2 separate regions of the Homo sapiens genome follow, and region 2 is linked to region 1. A link means that fine-mapping ties the variant in region 1 to the expression of a gene that starts in the linked region. Tissue or cell type: blood mononuclear cells. Region 1 holds a variant in brackets; the other region holds the start of a gene. All regions are shown on one strand. Distances are from middle to middle.

The links.
Region 2: CAPG starts here. The variant in region 1 is fine-mapped to the expression of CAPG in blood mononuclear cells (TOPMed, PIP above 0.99).

What each region holds. Positions count from the first base shown.
Region 1 is chr2:85,449,511-85,459,832 of GRCh38, reverse strand. No RefSeq gene overlaps it. Among named protein-coding and RNA genes, the nearest start is that of SH2D6, 36 kb to the right of the region's middle. RefSeq lists enhancers at 352-907, 3,800-4,789. The variant G/A (reference allele first, on the strand shown) is at 4,856.
Region 2 is chr2:85,404,647-85,415,379 of GRCh38, reverse strand. CAPG (capping actin protein, gelsolin like) reads left to right here and starts at 5,014. Exons shown (of 10, transcript NM_001747.4): 1 at 5,014-5,063. LOC105374841 (a long non-coding RNA gene) reads right to left here and starts at 1,669. Exons shown (of 3, transcript XR_940316.3): 1 at 1,313-1,669; 2 at 410-581. RefSeq lists silencers at 1,254-1,333, 4,787-4,836, 4,947-4,996 and enhancers at 1,464-1,513, 1,409-1,910, 9,519-9,568.

The DNA of each region.
Region 1 (10,322 bases):
GGGTGATCCTACTTACAACCCCTGTCTCCAATAAAATATCCGAGCCCTCACCTGTAACTGATGACTCCTAGTACAGAAAACCTCAGTTTTATCCTTTCCTAGTAGAAGCCGCTAGTGTCTTTTGCTGGGTTGGAGGAGGGACAGTCACTCACTGGAGGGCAATGGGGAGGGATTGGGGTTTAACTGCTTCTTCTTCTTCTTCGTTTTTTTTTGTTTTTTGTTTTTGACAGAGTCTCACTCTGTCGCCCAGGCTGGAGTGCAGTGGCACGATCTTGGCTCACTGCAACATTTGCCTCCTGGGTTCAAGCAATTCTCCTGCCTCAGCCTCCTGAGTAGCTGGGATTACAGGTGCACGCCACCACGTCCAGCTAATTCTTGTACTTTTAGTAGTGACTGGGTTTCACCATGTTGGCCAGGCTGGTCTCGAACTTCTGACCTCAGGTGACTCACCCGCCTTGGCCTCCCAAAGTGGTGGGATTACAGGCATGAGCCACCGCACCCGGCCCTGTTTCTAAAACAGACGTTTAATGAGTCTTCATTTTTAGGCTCATCTTTAACCTTCCTTCAGGAGGTACCTGGAGCCTTTTAGGGAATTCTATGGGTTAACACTTGGTTACCACTTGTTTTTTCCTGCAGCTGACAGTATTCAACATTCTCAGATCTTCTCAGTAATCACTGATTTCTAGCTTCCAAAGTCATGTTGCTATGTCTCCTCACAGGTTCCCTTTGTTCTTATTCATTTATGTCTATTTACAAATTCCTCCACCAGCATGTTAGTGGATTCCAGAGGGGGAAATATTCATTGATTTCTGCCACCTTTTTGTTGTTGTTATGTTAATTTTTACGTAGAGAAATACATTTGACTCTCAAACGGGGCAACAAAACCCCTGGAGAGTGACACATTGACCCCCTTTAAGTGACACGTTGGTCCAGTTTGAGTCAGGTGTTCCCTTCTACCAGTTAATTTTGGCAAGAGGAGTACAGCACCATGACTGGTGTGGGAATAGGTCCCTGTCCCAAGAGGGACCATCAGTGTGGCAGGGACAGTGGAGACATGTTCCACACACACAGTGGCTTGCACAGTCACAGAGATGGAGAAGGACAATCCCTAGAAAAGGGAGCCTACCCAGCTCCTGGGTGGGAGTTGATGTCCACAGGAAACCTGATGCTCACTGCACCTGGATGGGACGAGGAAGCCGACAGGGCCTCTCTGTCTGTGACTGTAGGTATGATATAATCCTATTTAGAAATAACATCACGAGTCTAAATTTGAGACCTGTTGTGAAAGTGAGACCCAGACCCCACTGCCCTTCTGCCTGCAGCCCTATACCCCTCCATGCTAGGGCCAGGATGGGAGCCATTTGGGGCCTGGGAAGAAACATGCCCTGCTTGAGAACCTGGTCAAAATGACTCTCTCTTGGAATTTATTTTGGCTACATGAATAAACAGAGACGTTTCCAAATGTCTAATCCTCAGTCTTCTGCTCTTTTCTCTCTACGCAGATTCAGCGATTACATCTCTATGGGTATCTGTAAACCCCTGCCGACCTCTCCCTCACCTTCAGTCCCACACTTCCACCCGCCTGAGGAACTCTTCCACTGTGTTGTCTCATGCACGTTGGCCCCAAGCTTCAATGCTCCAAATTGACCTCATCATTCTTGCACCTCCCAGGCTTGAAACCTAGGAATTATTTTCAACTCCTACCTCTCCCTTGGCACAGGTACCCAATTAGTCACCATTTTAATCATCCGCTGCTGGTAATCACTGTGACATTTATCCTATTGTATCTGGCAGTGAGATGGCTGTGGCTGTCAAGCTGACACACAAATCAAGCAGAATAAAACCCCACCCAGAAAAGGCTGGCATCAGCATGGAACTCTGTTACAAACATCAAAAGCAGTCTGTGGGCCGGGTGCATTGACTCATGCCTGTAATCCTAGCACTTTGGGAAGCCGAGGCAGGAGAATCACTTGAGCCAAGGAGCTCAAGACCAGCCTGAGCAACAGATTGAGACCCCATTTCTTTTATTTATTTATTTTAAAAAAATTTTTTAAATTTGTTTTTGAGACAGAGTATCTCTCACTGTTGCCCAGGCGGGAGTGCAGTGGTGTGATCTCGGCTCACTGCAACCTCCGCCTCCCAGGTTCAAGCGATTCTCCTGCCTCAATCTCCAGAGTAGCTGGCATTACAGGCATGTGCCACCACGCTGGACTAATTTTTTGTATTTAGTAGAGACAGGGTTTCACCATCATGGTCAGGCTGGTCTCGAACTCCAGGTGTGAGCCACCATGCCTGGCTGAGACCCCATTTCTATTACACAAATAATTAGCCAGGTGTGGTGGCTTGCACCTGTAGTCCCAGACATTCGGGAGGCTGAGGTGGGAATTTGAGGCTGCAGTGAGCCATGATCATACTACCACGCTCCAGCCTGGGCAACTGAACAAGGCCCTGTCTCAAAAAAAAAAAAAAAAAAAAAAAAGTGGTGTTATGGGGCTGACGGGAGGGGATGGGGAGATGTGATCAAGGCCAAGCTAGAGTGAGAGCAGATCCAGTAAGTGGAGTGAGCAGAGGAATGAAGTCATGAGCCGAGAGCCCACCCAGCGGCTGAGTTCAACCTTGAAGGCTCTGGGGGAGGAGCACCTAACATTTGTTTGGCATCTGCTAAGCAATCAAGGCCTTTTGCATATTTTATCATCTTCATCCTGGCAGCAAGACGTGGGATAGATGGTGAATCTGACATTTGCCTGGCACCTTTGGTTTTTGTTTTCTTTTCACAAACTCTAACTCATTTGATTCCATGGTAACCCAGTGAAGTGGTCAGAGCCCTCTTTGGTGAATGAGAAAACTGGATCCAAAAGTCCTCCATATCCTCGTTACTCAAAGTGTGGTCATCAGTATCACCTGGGAGCTTGTTAGAAACACAGATCGCCCGCTTATCCCAGGCTCACCCACTGGAATGTGCATTTAAACAAGAAGCCCAGGGATTCGTGGGCACATTAAAGCTGATCTATGTGACTGCTGGAGGAGTCTGGACCAGCCTTACACAGCTAAGTCTGCCCCTGGTCAGCAACGTTTGGCACAAATGCCAAGGTTACCTGCAACTCTGAGACAAGCTTGGCCATCAGCGGGGAGTGAGGCTGACAGAGCTGGGGACTGGGCGGTGAGAGGAGAGTGGAAAAGGGAAGTCAAGTCAAGGGTTGTTTGTGGGGATTATGCTGTGTGCTCCAGCACCCGTCAGGTGCTCCAGGACTGATGATGCAGCTGAGGACTGGGAAGCAGGAGACCATCAAGGAAGATGGCAGCCCAGCCCATGGAGGCAAGCAAAATGGAGTGGCTGAAGAGTTAGTGCTGGAGGAGGCACAGTCCCCTGGGAGTGGAGGGTCTTCCTGAGTGAGAGAGAAGGCAGGAGGAGGTGAGTAGGCCTGGGATGTGGAGGGCCCTGCACACCTGGCTGGGGAGTGCAGGCTTGATCTGGGGTCAGTGGAAAGTCTACGCTGGAGAGCTGTCCTGTGCCTCTTCCTCCACCCTGTTTCCCTCACCGGCGTCTCCTCATGGAAACATCTGTCTTGATAATCTTGACAGTCTCCTCTGGGACATCATAGCTCATAGACCTGCTCCCAGCCAATTCTCAACAACCAGAATTGAGCCCAGCCTGTCCTTTCCCTCTTCCTGAGCCTCCAAAGAGCCACCACTTTTCACCCAGTCACTGGCCACTCACCTTGGGAGTGATCTCAGACTCCTCCTGGTCCTGTAACCTCCACACTGCATTGTTCTTTGAGTTATCTCTGCTAAAAACCCTTCATCATCCCTAAGCAGCCTCCCCACCTGCAGTGTCTCCAGCCCACTCTCAGGCTTCCTTTGTTGGGTCCAAATTCCTCAGCCTGAGCTATTGTTCATAGCTCTCTACACCTTCCTCCTACCTTATCTTACCTGTGACTGCTCCCAGGGTCCCATTTCCCCCTCCTCCCCACCCTGCCTCCACTCCTGCCCTTTGATCTCCTTGTCCCTTCCTGCTTGTCTGTCCCCTGCTGGTGAGAGGTGAAGCCAGCTGGACTTCCTGGGTTGAGTGGGGGCTTGGAGAACTCTTCTGTCTTATAAGAGGATTGTAAAATGCACCAGTCAGCACTCTGTAGCTAGGTTTGTAAAACGCACCAATCAGCACTCTGTGGCTAGCTAGAGGTTTGTAAAATGCACTAATCAGTGCTCTGTAAAAACACACCAGTCAGCACTCTGTGGCTAGCTAGAGGTTTGTAAAATGGACCAATCAGCAGGACATGGGCAGGGACAAGTAAGGGAATAAAAGCTGGTCACCCCCAGCCTGGAGCGGCAACCCGCTCAGGTCCCCTTCCACGCTGTGGAAGCTTTGTTCTTTTGCTCTTCACAATAAATCTTGCTGCTGCTCATTCTTTGGGTCCGTGCCACCTTTAAGAGCTGTAACACTCACAGTGAAGGTCCACGGCTTCATTATTGAAATCAGCGAGACCACGAACCCATCAGAAGGAACCAACTCCAGACACACTGGGAGAGACCAACCCTCTTTGTTTCCTCTGGCCAAAGCCTGCCTGTCTTTCTATGCCCATATACATGCCTTTACTTCCTTCCTGTTGGGATTAGAAGATTAGAACCCAGGATTTGTGACTAGTGGCCAGGTTATAATTTTTTTTTTTTTTTTGAAACTGAGTCTTGCTCTGTCATCCAGGCGGGAGTGCAGTGGCATGAACATGGCTCACTGCAGCCTCGACTTCCTGGGGTCAAGTGATCCTCCTGCTTCAGCATTCCATGTAGCTGGGACCACAGGCATCCACTACCATGCCTGGCTAATTTTTTTTTTTTTTTTTTTTTGAGACGGAATCTC[G/A]CTCTGTTGCCCAGGGTGGAGTGCAGTCGCACGATCTTGGTTCACTGCAATCTCTGCCTCCTGGGTTCGAGCAATTCTCCTGCCTTAGCCTCCCGAGTAGCTGGGACTGCAGGCGTGCGCCACCACTCCCGGCTAATTTTTGTATTTTTATTAGAGACGGGGTTTCGCCGTATTGGCCAGGGTGGTCTTGAACTCCTGACTTCATGATCCGCCCACCTCAGCCTCCTAAAGTGCTGGGATTACAGGCATGAGCCACCACGCCTGGCCTCCTTCCTGCTTTCTAAACATTCTTTCTTGTTTTCTAGGCTGAACATGTATTATGTTATAATTATAGGATGAACATAAACCTTTCCGAAGAATGAATTGCCGCTAAGGAGAGGCTGAAGGGCAGGGTGCGGGACAGGAAGGTGACTGTTGAGAACATCTGGGAGGGGAGCCATTGACTAGTGTTGGCCTTGGGTGGACGGGGACGGGGAGGTGGAAAGCTCTGTGGCTTCATGCCATGTTTAATTCAGACCTGGGCTTGAACCCCAGCTTTGCCTTTGCTCCTTAATCTGTGACCTTGGGAAAATTAGTTAACACTGAGTTTCAACATTTACTAAATTATGTGGCCTTAGGAAACTAATCTAGCCTCTTTAAGCCTCATCCATTCAACAGTTTTAGTATCTAGGAAATGTTAAATCAAGTTTAATCTAAAGCTGCCTCCTTACATTTTTTCTTATTTATTTATTTATTTATTTATTTATTTATTTATTTATTTATTTGAGACAGAGTCTCATTCTGTTGCCCAGGCTGGAGTGCAATGGCGTGATCTTGGTTCACTGTAACCTCTGCCTCCCGGGTTCAAGTAATTCTCCTGCCTCAGCCTCCCAAGTAGCTGGGATTACAGGTGCACACCACCACACCCGGCTAAATTTTGTATTTTCAGTAGAGATGCGGTTTCACCATGTTGGCCAGGCTGGTCTTTAACTCCTGACCTCAGGTGATCCACTTGCCTCGGCCTCCCAAAGTGCTGAGATTACAAGCATGAGCCACCGCGCCTGGCCTCCTTATATATTTTAAGTTTGGCCTAAAGGTTTCTCTGTACATCATGAACTACAGCCTAAATGGAAGCGTAAACAGACTGTAATCTACTCTTGGGCCAATCACCGAGTTTTGGCCATTCAAATGTGGCCAACTGTTCAAACTGTGTTCAAATAAGGCAAACGCAAAACTGCAACCAATCCAGCTGTTTCTGTAACTCGCTTCCGTTTGCTGTATGTCTCTTTCCTTTTTCTGTCCATAAATCTTCTTCCACCATGTGGCTACACTGCAGTCTGTGGGCCTACTCTGGCTCAGGAGGCTGCCTGATTTGGGAATCATTCTTTGCTCAGCTTTTACATTTAATTCAGCTGAAGCTTTTCTTTTAACAGGAACTATGTACCAGACACTGTTCTACCTGCTAGGCTCTAGCAGGAAATAATTCAGGCAAATTCTTCATCTTCATGGAGTTTTTATAGTTTAGAGAGGAGAGGGACATAATAAATAGCCAAGAAGAAGTATAGTGACTCGTGCCTGTAATCCCAGCACTTTGGGAGGCTAAGGCAGAAGAATCACTCGAGCCCAGGCATTTAAAACCAGTCTGGGCAATATAGTGAGACCCCCCCCAATCTCAACAAAAAATTAAAAATTTAGCCAGGCATGGTGGCACACACCTGTAGTTCCATTTACTCAGGATGCTGAGGATGGAGGATGGTTTGAGCCTGGGAGATTTAGGCTGCAGTGAGCCATGATCCCACCACTGCACTCCAGCCTGAGCAACAGAGCATAAGACCCTGTCTCAGGGAAAAAAAAAAAAAAAAAAAAAAGGCCAGGTGCAGTGGCTCACACCTGTAATCTTAGAACTTTGGGAGGCCAAGGTGAGCGGATCACTTGAGGTCAGGACTTCAAGACCAGATTGGTCAATATGGCAAAACCCCATCTCTACTAAAAATACAAAAGTTAGCCAGGCATTGTGGCAGATGCCTGTAATCCCAGGTACTCAGGAGGCTGAGGCAGGAGAATTGCTTGAACCCGGGAGGTGGAAGTTGCAGTGAGCCGAGGTCGCAGCACTGCACTCCAGCCTGAGGGACGGAGTGAGACTTCTTTGCCCCTATCCAGCGGGAAGTAGCTAGAGTGATCATCGCCCAATTCAGGAAATTCGGAAATTTGTGATATTTTATTTTTATATATGTGCACTCATGTGCACACACACACACACATACACACATATATGATATGAAAAAAATGCAGAGGAGGAATCTAGAATGTGGAGTGTGGGAAGATTTCCTCGTCTTAAAGTAGTGTGGGGAGGCCTCACTGAGGGGTGACATCTGAGCAGAGACCAGAAGGAAATAGAACAGCCAGCTTTGTGAGTGTTTTGGGGGAGAGAATTCCAGGCTGAGAAGACAGCAATACACTCAAGGCAAGAGTGGGCTTGCAGTGTCTGAGGCCAGTGTGGCAGGGGTCAAGGGAAAAGTCAGTGGCAGGAAATGGAGCCAGGGAGGTGGCAGTGGGCCAGATCACACAAGGCCTGGTAGGCTGTGGTCAAGACTTCAGTGGCTAGGATTAGTGGCAGCAGGGCCAGTGGTGGGTATATTTTGAAGGTAGAGCCAACAGGGTTTGCTGATTTTTTTTTTTTCTTTTTTGAGACAGGGTCTTGCTCTATCACTCAGGTTAGAGTGCAGTGGTTGCAATCTTAGCTCACTACAGCCTCGACCTCCTGGGCTCAGGTGATCCTCCCACCTCAGCCCCCCTAGTAGCTGGGTGTACATGCAAGCACCACCATGCCCGGCTAATTTTTGTATTTTTTGTAGAGACGGGGTTTTGCCATGTTGGCCAAGCTGGCCTTGAACTCCTGTACTCAAGTGATCCTCCCGCCTCGGCCTTCCAAAGTGCTGGGATTACAGGCAGGAGCCACCACGTCTAGCCTTGCTGGTTATTAATGTCGATCGTGAGTAAATGAAACAGGTCAAGGAAGAGTCCTTTGTCTGGTTTTGGTCTGAGCATGGAGAAGGTGAAGGTATCGTTTACTGAGTTTGGTAAGGCTGCAGAAGGAGCAGGTCTAGGGTAAAAATAAAAGTTTAATTTTGGATATTGTGCCAGCTGTGTCTATTAGACACCCAGGTCAAGGTGTTGATTAGGCAGTTGGATATTCAAACCCAGAGTTCAGGGGACAGGTCAGGGCTGGAGATACAAATTTGGGAGAGGTCAGCATAGAGAGATTGATCTTAAAGCCATGAGCCTGGATGAGGTCACCTGGAGTGTGAACAAGGACAGAGAAGAGAAGGACTGACTCCTGCGGCCGTGCAGTATTTTGACACCAGGAAAATGAAGAGAAACCAGAAATATACATGGGGGAGGAGGGGCCAGTGACATAAAAGAAGGTCCAAGAAAGGGTGGTGTCTCAGAGGCCAAGTAAGGATGTGTTTAATAAACATGATCCCAGCCAGGCATGGTGGAGCACACCTGTAATCCCAGCTACTTGGGAGGCTTAGGCTGGAGGGTCACTCGAGCCCAGGAGCTCAAGGCCAGCCCGGGCTACATAGTAAGATCCTGTCTCTAAAAAAATAAAATGTGAACCCTTGTGTTTCTGTTTCTAGTGTTGTTGATAGACTGAATTCATGCTATAGGTGGGTGATTCTGCAAGCACTTTGTTAGCAGTTACTCTGGAGGCCTGGTGTCATTATGGATATATTAAAGAAAGGCTGCCCTTTTTTTTTTTTTTTTTGAGAGACAGGATCTCACTCTGTTGCCCAGGCTGGAGTGCAGTGGCATGATCACGACTCACTGCAGCCTCCACTTTCCAGGTTCAAGTGATCCTTCTGCCTCAGCCTCCTGGGTAGCTGGGATTACAGGCTCACACCAGCACAGCTGATTAATTTTTTTTTTATTTACTTTTATCTTTTTTTTTTTTTTAATGAAATGGGGTCTTGCTATGTTTCCCAGGCCTGTCTTGAACTCCTGAGGTCAAGCAATCTGCCTTCCTTGGCCTTCCAAAGCACTGGCATTACAGGTGTCAGCCACCACTTCCGGCCATTAATATTTAAAAATTTTTTTTGTTGAGATGGGGTATCTATGTTGCTCAGGCTGGTCTCAAACTCTTGGGCTCAAGCGATCCTCCTGCCTCAGTGTCCCAAAGTGCTGGGATTACAGGCATGAGCCACTGTACCTGACAGAGGCTGCCATTTTTAGTGGCCAATCCATCCAGTGTAATCCAGCAGTCTTCTTCTTCCCCCTCACACAGCCACCTGCAGTGAAAATCGGGAGGGAACAGGCAATGAGGGTGCCGTGGGGAGCAGCACTTGGCAGGAGACCATGGATGGAATTCCAGGTAGGCAGGTGGGGCCTGACAGCCACAGTAGAGCTTTGGTCTCTGGGGAGCCTGGTGAGTGTCAGGTGAGACCCTGGCCCTTCAGTACAGTGACACTTTGGGCAGAATGAGGAAGCAGGAAGGGGTCCCAGGTGTTAGAACAGATGAGTTCTTTGGTGAGTACACAAATTTTCAGGTGGTAGAAACACCAAATGGAGCCTCCAGATCCCTTCTTTGTGACCCATGGCCTGTCACACCATAGATTAGCCATCCCCTCACCCTTCTCCATCCTTGGGAATCCCCTCTCTGATTCCAGCCCCATGACTTGACCTGTTCTTCTCCCTCCAGCAGCACGGGCTTCTGATCCTCTCAAGTCAGAGCCCCTCTGGTTCATGGGTCCCTTCCCGGAGTCTCTCACCCCAGTGGTGTCCTCAGATCCACCCTAGAACTGAGCCTGGTTTCACAAAACAGCCGTGGCAGCTACTTTCTGTCCTCTGAAATAAATAAAAGTCTCCTCTTGTCCCTGTTGCATTACTAATCAGCCACAGCTCATACCCTCTGAAGCCTTCTTATTATCCTGCTTCCTGAGAACCTGATTCTTCTAGGCACTCTGTGATGTTTAGAGAGATACCTGCTTTATTTTATTTATTTTTATTTTTATTTTTATCGTGACGGAGTCTGGCTCTGTTGCTCAGGCTGGAGTGCAGTGGTGTGATCTCAGCTCACTGCAACCTCTGCCTCCCAGGTTCAAGCAATTCTCCTGCTTCAGCCTCCCAAGTAGCTGGGATTACAGGCATGTACCACCATGCCTGGCTAATTTTTTTTATTTTTTTTTTGTATTTTTATTAGAGATGGGGTTTCACCATGTTGGCCAGGCTGGTCTCGAACTCCTGACCTCAGGTAATCTACCTTCCTTGGCCGCCCAAAGTGCTGGGATCACAGGCGTGAGCCACTGTGCCCAGCCAAGCCCTGCTTTACTAAAGTTAGCTTTTACGTCAAAGACAGAATGTGAAGATATAATAGATGAGGGCTCATCTCAGAAAATCCCCACGGATCATAGAGGTGGGGTGAGAAGGAACTGGAAGGAGGAGGGGATCGCAGGAGGAGTCACCCTTTCAGCTAGAGAACTGTGCATTT
Region 2 (10,733 bases), 45 kb after region 1:
GGACTATGCCTGGGCACAACCTTGGAGAGGCCTAGTTGTCTGGAAGCAGGCCAGGTTGCCCATGGATCCAAATCCACTTTTGCTATCGGGTGTGCCTGAGAAGTGTTCCCATGGGCGTGTAGATGCAGGTGGCCCAGTGGCTTGATGTCCAGAATACCTGGGGAGCACTGCAGAGGGAGTTTCAGAGGAGGGATATTTAAGCTGAGTCTGCAGAGTGAGCAGAGTTGGTCAAAGGAAGGCAGATAGTAGGCAGCGGGAGGTGGTTTCCGAGGACTCCTTGCTGGAGTGTGCTTGTCTGAGGTCACCCAGATAGAAAGATTGTTTCCTTACCCCAGGCCCCACCCATGGACTTCAGAGAAACTCATTCTGGTTGGGATTTTCGAAGCTGCCTCCCACAAAAGGATCTTACCACTGTGTCACAAGGCCATGGCCTGATCCTCATGCTCTTTGTCAACTGACATCTCTCATGGGTTGGCTATGCCACATTCAGGAGCCAAGGCGGAAGTGTGGACCCATCGCTGTCCAACACATTTCCAGAAGGCCTGGCCTCCTGGTGCAGATGCTTGCTGGCCTGTTTTCCTCTGAATAAAGAAGAGAAGGGTCAGGTGTTGCAGGTCAGATCAGCCTGGGTTAGAATCCTGGTTCAGCAGTTGGGTGCGGTGGCTCATGCCTATAATGCCAGCACTTTGGGAGGCCAAAGCAGGAGGATCACTTGAGCCCAGGAGTTTGAGACCAACCTGGGCAATAGAGTGAGACACAGTCTCTCCAAAAAAAAAAAAAAGTTTAGCTGGGCGTGGTGGCATATGCCTGCAGTCCCAGCTACTCAGGAGGCTGAGGCTGGAGGATTGCTTGAGCCTGGGAGGTTGAGGCTGTAGTGAGCTGTGATCACAGCACCGCACTCCAGGTGCCGCGACAGAGTGAGACCCTGTCTCAAAAAAAAAAAAAAAAATCTTAGTTCTGCTACTGAACTAGCAATGTGACACTCTGGACAAGTTAGTTACCCTCTCTGAGCCTCCCAAAGACTTCATGTTTCCAGCAGGAATAATGATAGTAGATGTGAGGACGCACCAAGCACATAGTAGGCTCTCACAGAACAGTAGCTGTTCACAGGGTGATTGAGGCCGGGGGCCTAACGATTGAATGGAAGTGAACACTGCAATTCTCTCGCAAAGTTTACAGCACAGTAAGCTTGTCCTTAGCTTCCCCTATACCCTCCTTCCCACGCCCAATTCTAGGACCCTTTCGGGCGCCCCAGCCTCCCATAGGGGCTCCCCGCCAGCTCAGACCGGCCGGGCCCCTCCCTCTGACTCACCGGGGGCGGCTCCTGGCCGCGCACCTCCAGGGGGCGGGGGGCGGCTGAGACAGCGCCCAGGGCCTCGGAGCAAGGCGTTGGCAGGCAAGTAGTGCGCTTCGGGGTCCGGTCGCCGGGGACCTGGGCTCCCCATGTAGGGGTCGAACGGGCTTAGCCGGTTCGGGGGCGCCCCGCTCCCTCCTCTTCTCCCACAGCCGGGGTCCTCTCTTAGGGGCGCGCCGTCTCCTGGCTTCCTGTAAGAAAAGGCGGGAGAGGGTGGGTCCGTGCTAAAGAAATACTTTATTTTACTTCATTTGGGACAAACTAAGCAGTAGTGCTCAGGGGAGACCACAAGGGTAGGAACACTGTGCGTCTGGTAAAAAAACTAGTTCTAGAGCGTCGTTACCAGATAACTCATTAGCATGTGCATTGAGTTCCTAGCCGCTCCCGAGAGTCCTAGGCTGAGCGACCGGCCCTTTTGTTTCGCTGTTGTTGTTGTTTGTTTTTTGAGACGGAGTTTTGTTTTTATTGCCCAGGCTGGAGTGCAGTGGCGAGATCTCGGCTCACCGCAACCTCCGCCTCCCGGGTTCAAGCGATTCTCCTGCCTTAGCCTCCCGAGTAGCTGAGATTATAGGCGCCCGCCACCACGCCCAGCTAATTTTTGTATTATTAGTAGAGATGGGGTTTCGCCACGTTGGTCAGGCTGGTCTCGAACTTCTGACCTCAGGTGATCCGCCCGCCACGGCCTCCCAGAGTGTTGGGATTACAGGCGTGAGCCACTGCGCCCAGCCAGTTGTTTCGCTGTTAATGTGTAAACCTCTCCCCTTTTTTCCTGTGGTGATAGGAGAGGCTTTAGCCTAGACAGCTGAGTGTGAGGAACAGTGATTCCCATTGATCCTTGTTCCCTCCGTGGGTCACAGAGTCCAGAACTTAAGAGCCACCCAAGGTATGCGCTGTTGTGACCAAAATCTATGAAGCTTTCCAGCGCTGGGGCTGGGGATGGAAATAGGAGAGTGCTCTGTGGTTTAACTTTCTTTCCTCCTGTGGAGAAACCGGGAGCTAGGGGAGTGGCCAGGCACATTTCTACCTCAGGTGCTGATGGCACATTGCAAACTAAAGGGAAGAGAAAGAAGTCTGGGTTTATCGAGCATGTATTATTTGCTCATTAATCATAGGATCTCATTTCATCTTCACATTTAACTGTATGCACGTGTTACAGATTGGGGCACAGGGAGGCTCCAGGAGGTTAAGTCACTTGCACAGCTAGTAAGGAGCCAAATTGTCTAGCTCTTATCACTCTACCAGGTTAACCGCCCAGCCTGTGGTTTTGTGGGGACTAGGCCCTACTGGGATTCTCACCCAGACTATCCTTTTTTTTCTTTTTTAAACTTTTAAGTTCAGGGGTACATGTGCATGTTTGTTATATAGGTAAACTCGTGTCATGGGGCTTTGTTGTACAGATTATTTTGTCTCCCCGGTATTAAGCCTAGTACCCATTAGTTATTTTCCTGAATCTCTCCCTCCTCCCACCCTCCACCAAACTACCCTATTATTATTGTTATTATTATTATTTTTTGAGACTGAGTCTTGCCCAGTCACCCAGGCTGGAGTGCAATGGCGCAATCTCGGCTCACTGCAACCTCTGCCTCCCGGGTTCAAGCGATTCTCCTGCCTCAGCCTCCTGAATAGCTGAGATTACAGGCATGCGCCACCACCCCCGGCTAATTTTTTGTGTCTTTAGTAGAGATGGCGGTTTAACCATGCTGGCCAGGCTGGTCTCGAACTCCTGACCTCATGATCCACCCGCCTTGGCCTCCCAAAGTGCTGGGATTACAGGCGTGAGCCACCGCGCCCGGCCCATATTACCCTATTTTTAAGCCTGGCAGTTTGGCCATGGAGACACTTGGATGCTAGCTACAGGCCATGTTCTTTGGGGAGAAGATTTAACTTCCCGTCTTGCTCTAGTGAAATTTTATCAATTTCGTTTCAATGAGAAACATTCATCCAGTATTGCTTTTTTTTTTTTTGAGATGGAGTCTTGCTTTGTCTCCCAGGCTGGAGTGCAGTGGCGCCATCTCGGCTCTCTGCAGCCTCCGCCTCCTGGGTTCAAGTGATTCTTCTGCCTCAGTCGCTCCAGTAGCTAGGATTACAGGCACCCATGACCATGCCCGGCTAATTTTTGTATTTTTAGTAGAGACAGGGTTTCACCATGTTGGCCAGGCTGGTCTTGAACTCCTGACCTCAGGTAATCTGCCTGCCTCAGTCTCCCAAAGTGCTGGGATTACCGGAGACAGCCACCATGCCCAGCCTATCCAGTACTGTATTTTCTCCAGACTTTTCCCACGCAGTCAAATAATGAGGTTTTGTTTGAAGGTCTGCTAATTAGGAAGATTTGTTCCAGATTTTGCTCCAGGGTCCCCAGGCCTTGACCCTGAACCTGGAGCCTTGTCTCAAGCCAGCCTGCTGACCAATACCTTTCCAGGACAGGCCGGCTAGGTTCTGGGCAGAGGAACTACGCTTGTGTGGCTGCATAACTGGGTGCTCACTTTCTCCTGGAGCCTCATACTGAGTCCGCTCATCCTTCCCCCAGGGATTCAGAAGGGAATGGGAGCCTCCCTTGCAGGGGCTTCCACTCCCTGTGTGTTTGTGGGCAGTCTCTTGTGCTCTCAGGACCTCGGTGTCCTCCAGAAAGCCAGCGAGTTGGAGGAGACAAGCTCTAGGGTCTAGTGACTGTGATGTAGGCAGGATAGTTGCCCTGGGTCAACCCAGGATGGGCTGTCTCTCAGAGGGCCCAGGGCCCAGAAGTCATGATGATAAACATCTGGTGAATGAGAAGCAGACCAAAGGGTAGAGACCTGAGAGGCATCAGCATGGCATGCGGAAGATGGTGAAGAATGTTTTATGGCCTCAGCCATTCCCTGAGAACTGAGCTTAGCCAGGTGCAGTAGCCCACGCCTGTAATCCCAGCACTTTGGGAGGCCAAAGTGGGAGGATTGCTTCAGTTCAGGAGTTCTAGACCAGCCTGAGTAGCAAGACTCTGTCTCCAGAAAAAATAAAAAAATTAGTCGGGCATGTTGGTGCAGGCCTGTGGTGTCAGCTGCTCAGGAGGCTGAGGCAGGAGGATCGCTTGAGCCCAGGAGTTCAAGGCTGCGGTTAGCGGTGATAATGCCACGGCACTCCAGCTTGCGTGACAGTGAACCCTGTCTCAGGAAAAAAAAAAAAACAAAAAAAACCAAAAAACTGATCTTAAAAAAAATCAAATACTTGCATTCAGGGCAAGGAGAAAGACAAACTGAGGGAGGAGGAAAAAGTAATGTGAAGCCAGTGACCCTGCCCAGAAAATGTGACTAACCCAGCAGCGGTGGGGGCTGTGCCGCGCCTGCCCCAGGCCCTGAATGGAGAACATGGCTTTCCTTGCTGGTCTCAGACTCAGAGATGCCCTCCCTGATTTGCCTTGGCTGTGACCTGCAGCGGGCTGAGGCCACTGTGGTGGGGCTGTGTGGACCTCCAGCCTCCCTGTGTGCCCCTCTGAGGAGACGGCCTGGCATACCCACTGCCCACCCCAGTGACTGCTCTTCTGCTTCAGGCCTGCTGGCCTCCCAGCACTGCCTGCCCCTCCCTGTCGGGGGACATCGCCTCCACACCGGCTGGGGAAGGAGCCCAGGGGTGGGGCTGGTGGGTGGGGCTGGTGGTTGGGGCAGCCAGAGAAGTAAGAGGGAAGTGAGAAGCCGGGTGGGGCAGGCTGGAAGGAAGACGAACCTACGAAGCAGAGGTAGGAGGAAGAAAGGAAAGTAGGAGTGTTGAAAGGTGAAGGTGGCAGGGTGGCTGCCAGCGCGGCTGGCTGGTACCCTCCTGGGTGGGCAGGCGAGGGCTGGCTGTGGTGGCCTGGGAACAGAGACCCACATTTCTGGATACCACATTGTGCCAGGGTGGAGTTCCCCCAGCCTGCTGTCCTGCCAGCCTTATGCCAGGCTCCAGGCACCTGATCTGATGGCAGCTGTGAAGCTGCCCGGGAGGATGGGTGGGCTGTGCCCATGCTGCACATGGAGGAACTCTTGGGTCAGGGCTTGTCCCAGCTGTGCCAGACCTCCTGACGGAGGCCACCACACTGCTCCTGAAGGCCCTCAGCCAGACTGGAGGTGAAATCAGATTAGAAGCTGCCTGTCCCCAAGACAGGACTGTGGTGTGATGCTATTTGGGTGGGAGTGGCTTGGGGAGGGGGCAGGGCAGTCCTAGCCATTTGAATTCAAATGCAAGTGGCACATTTGATTATTTTGCAAACTCTGGAAGACCTTGGCTGAGGGTCTAGGTGGACTGTCTGAGGTAGGAGGTGGGGAGGGAGGAAGTGGTTGACCCTGGGGAAGGGTAGGAGACCTATTTGGTATCAGGGGAAAAACCATTTGGAATCCCCAAATGAGGCCTCTGGACCTAGATTCTGAGAATGCCATGTCCCAGGCTGGGAGATTCAGTTTGGTTTCGAGGGTGGGCACCTACCTCCACCAGGAGAAGTGGAGGTGCTGTTTCATTTCACACCTAGGGGCAAGCAGGGACTGTGAAGGGAAGAGACCTATTGGGGGTCAGTGGAATCAGGGTCTGAGGAAGGCAAAGGTACCACTGGACCCCGGCAGGATTTTTGTCCCTCTGATGGCTGTCAAGTCTTTCCTTAAAGGTGTGTGTAACGGTGACCTCCTCTCCGAGGTCCCCCAGTGTGTCCTCAAAGACAGCCTAAGTCAGGACCATGGGACAGCCAGCAGGACTTGCGTCCTCCCCTCCCCCAGCCCCATGGCAGTCTGGGACCCCTAGCCCCTGCTCTCTGCCTCCTGGGGCTGCTCCAGCCTGTCCCAGCCTTTTGAAATCCTGGGCTATCCCTTAGGTGCCACCCCAGTCTAATAATCAGAGCCCAGCAGGTCCAGTTAATCAAATGCATTCTTTGAGCACCTGCATGAGGTTCCAGCTAGATCCAGAGGCAAAATACACTTCCTGCCCTAAAGGACCCTACAGTGTAGTAGTGGAGGTAGGCGGGTCCATAACTCACCACACTATGGCAGAGTGGGGAAAAGTAAAGGCTTTAAGAGGTGTAGAAGAGGCTGTTTGGTAAGGTGGTGAGTTTCCCATCACTGGAAGCCTTCAAGAAGAGGATGGTAAGGGATGCTATAGAAGAGATTTCTGCACTATGCGTGTATGGGTATGTGTAGGGCGGTGCAGGCAGAGCAGGACTAGATAAGAACTTTAGCGCTTTCTTTTTTTTGTTTTATTCCTCCCCCCCGGCCCCAGCTCCCCTCTTCAACTTTAGCACTTTCTAATGCTGACATCTGTGATTCTGTGACATTCCCCACTTAGAGGAAGTTCGTCTGCGGTTTCACTGGGTATGGTGGCTCCCTTGTTCACTGCACCCTGCAGCTAAACCATAAAACATGGGCTATTCTTTGTCTCTGTGCATGTCACCCCCAGTGCCAAGCCCCCAGCACAGACGTTGAGTGGAATGGAATAGACTCTTTGCTGGGCTGCTTGAGGAACAGAGGCATCAGGTGTGTCCTTGCTCCAGTTGAGATGTGAAGCAGCCAGTTTATGCTATAAAACAGGCTAAAGTATGTGCTCCCAGGGGAGAGGGCTGGGAGAACTCCCAGAGAAGGCGGAGGCCACTTAATGTCCTGGAAGTTTCCTTGGACAGCTGGGGCTTGATACGGGCCTGGAAGGATAAGGGGGCTTGTGTGTGTGTGTGTGTGTGTGTGTGTGTGTGTGTGTGTGTGACAGATTCTTCCTCTGTTGCCCAGGCTAGAGTGCAGTAGTGCCATCTCGGCTCACTGCAACCTCTGCCTCCCGGGTTCCAGCAATTCTCCTGCCTCAGCCTCCTAAGTAGCTGGGACTACAGGCACGCACCACCATGCCTGGCTAATTTTGTATTTTTAGCAGAGATGGAGTTTCACCATGTTGGCCAGGCTGGTCTTGAACTCCTAATCTCAAGTGATCCACCCGCCTCAGCCTTCCAAAGTTCTGGGATTACAGGCATGAGCCACTGTGCCCAGCCTAGGATGAGGGGGCTTTAATGGATGTAAGGGTGAACATGGACACTGAGGAAGCTCAAGGAGCTGTGGGCTTGGACAGAGGGCTGGGATAGGGGAAAGAATGAAAGGCCAGAGGTCAGGGTGGACCCTTCCCCAGGAGAGACTGGAACAAAAGGTCTCGGGACAGAGATCTAATGAGGCAGCAGGAGTTTCAACCCTGACCAAGCATTAGAGTCATCTGGAGCTTCTCAAACACTGACATCCAGGCTCCACCTAGAGAGTCTGGTTTTAATGAGTCCAATATGGAAGCTAGTCACTGGGGTTTTTCTTTCTTATTTTTCTGTAAATTACTTTTTTTTTTTTTTTTTTTTGAGACAGAGTCTCACTCTGTCACCCAGGCTGGAGTGCAGTGGTGTGATCTCGGCTTACTGCAACCTCCACCTCCCAGGTTCAAGCAATTCTTGTGCTGCAGCCTCCCAAGTAGCTAGGATGACAGGTGTGCGCCACCACGCCCAGCTAATTTTTGTATATTTTGTAGAGACAGGATTTCACCATGTTGCCCAGGCTGGTCTTGAACTCCTAAGCTCAAGCATTCCACCTACCTCAGTCTCCCAGTGTGCTGGGATTACAGGCATGAGCCACCATGCCTGGCTGGCACTGGGGTTTTTCAAAAGCCCCCAAATGATTCTAATGTGCAGGTGAGCATTTGACACTGTTCTGGACAGAATTCACTGGCACTACTACCATCACTTTGAACATATGTTCAAAATATGGGTGATCAAGCCCCATTCCAGACCTGTGGAATCAGAATCCCCAGACCAGGGGCTTGGGCACTGTTAAAGAAAAAAAATATGGCCCAGGCGCAGTGCCTCACGCCTGTAATCCTAGCACTTTGGGAAGCCAAGGTGGGCAATCACTGGAGGTCAGGAGTTCAAGACCAGCCTGACTGACATGGTGAAACCTCACCTCTACTAAAAGTACAAAAAATTAGCCAGATGTGGTGGTGCACGCCTCTAATCCCACTACACAGGAGGCTGAGGCAGGAGAATTGCTTCAACTCAGGAGGCAGAGGTTGCAATGAGCTGAGACTGTGCCACTGCGCTCCAGCCTGGGCAGCAGAGTGAAACTCTGTCTCAAAAAAAAAAAAAAGAAAATTACTAAGAGGAAACATCAAGGGTAAAGAGATTCTGGCTAGACTGAGCTAACAGGATTCCTTTTTTTTTTTGAGACGGAGTTTCGCTCTTGTTGCCCAGGTTGGAGTGCAATGGCATGATCTCAGCTCACTGCAACCTCTGCCTTCCGGGTTCAAGTGATTCTCCTGCCTCAGCCTCCCGAATAGCTGGGATTACAGGCATGAGCCACGAAGCCCAGCTAATTTTGTATTTTTAGTAGAGATGGGGTTTCTCCATGTTGGTCAGGCTGGTCTCGAACTCCCGACCTCAGGTGATCTGCCCGCCTTGGCCTCCCAAAGTGCTGGGATTACAGGCATGAGCCACTGTGCCCGGCCCCTAACAGGATTCTTGCTGAATACAGGCCAGAGTGATCAGACATCACTGGGGCGGCGGGGGCAGGGTGTTGAGGAACCCAATCAGATATCCACGATTATCAGATCGACCAGATATCAAGGGTAGGGGGTTCTAGGTAAATGGCCTTAGCAGGGTTCTTTTGCTAAAACCGGATTTTACAAGCACACAGATGGGCCTACGGGGTGGTTCAGAAGCCTAGTTAAAGTTTGGCCAAGCAAAGAATCTTTGTCAGTACCGACATTTTAATAAGGTCCCAAGGTCATTCTAATGAGCAGCCAAACTCCTTTCTTTTCTTTTTTTTTTTTTGAAACCGAGTCTCACTCCATTGCCCAGGCTGGAGTGCAGTGGCATGGATCTTGGCTCACTGCAACCTCCGCCTCCCAGGTTCAAGTGATTTCCGGATAATTTTTGTGCTTTTAGTAGAGACGGGGTTTCACCATGTTGGCCAGGCTGGTTTCGAACTCCTGACCTCAAGTGAACTGCTCACCACGGCCTCCCAAAGTGCTAGGATTACAGGCGTGAGCCACCGCACCCGGCCTGCCAAACCCCTTTCATCCAAACCCTGATGTGGCTCTCTGGCATGTAGGCTGCCTGATTTTGAGTTAAACACAGAATGAAAAATAGTAAAGGTGACAATTGGCGCACTCCGTGTCTCATTCTTGAGCGCTCCCTGATGGCTTGAGCTTGGGGCAGCCACTTCACCAGCTCAGGCCTGAGTCACAGGCTGGGCTGCCTGTTGCAGGGGATGTGGGCACAGCATGTGATCCTCTGTGGGATGGAGAAACGTTAAAGTTTCCCTCCGCAAACCTCTGCTCTCTGCATGTCCTCTTCCGGAATCGTGGTGCCAAAATATGCCTTCCACTATTTTGTAGGTTGGGAAAGGAAAAGGAAAGTCATAATTCACACAGCATTTCACATCCATTATCACTGCCCTTGACCTGTCCCTCTTTGTTTCCTACTCAGACTTAATACCTTCTGCTCTGTCATCTGCCTTCCCCCTACCCCTGACTTCCCTGGCCCCTGCGAAATATTGCACTTCCTGATCCTGCTGCCCCAGCCCCCAAGAATCTCCTAATGGTGCCAGCTTGCATTTTTACCCTCCAATTCCCCAAGCCCTTACCCTGTGCCACTGGGGCTCATCTTACACAAACTCTGTCCAAATGGATGCACAGCATGAATTGTATTATGTACGAAGTGCATGCTGGCTCTGTGATCTCTGCATTTTGAGCCAAAAAAAGAAATCCTCTAGTGATGGGAACCTATGAAAGCGACAGTGAGTGGAGCCGTAGCTGTTGCATTTTCTGAATTTTTTAAAAAGATAATATCTTTTTAAAAAATACTTGCGTTTAGCATTTTTTCCCTTGAATGACTTTTGTCCAGAAAAAGTGTTCATCATTCTGGCATTTGAGGGAAGCTGGGCATACAGAATTGATAGCTGATGCCTGGGAGTGGGTGAAATTTCTCAGGGAGGGAGTTTAGAATTAGAGCAGCCATTAAATATAATGTTAGGTGAAGGGTTTTTGTTTGTTTGTTGTATTTTAATAGATGCCTTTTTAACAGGTTAAGGAAATTTCTTTCTATTCCTAGTTTGTGGGTAAAAAAAAAATTTTTTTTTTTTTTTTGAGAGGGGGTTTTACTCTGTCATCCAGGTTGCAGTTCAGTGGCATGATCTTGGCTTACTGCAGCCTCTATCTCCTGGGCTCAAGCGATACTCACTCCTCAGCCTCCTGAGTAGCTGGGATCTGGAATTACAGGCTTGCACTACCACATTTGGCTGATTTTTATTTATTTTATTTTATTTTATTTTTTTGAGACAGAGTCTTGCTCTGTCACCCAGGCTGGAGTGCAGTGGCACAATCTCAGCTCACTGCAACCTCTGCCTCCTGGGTTCAAGCAATTCTCCTGCCTCAG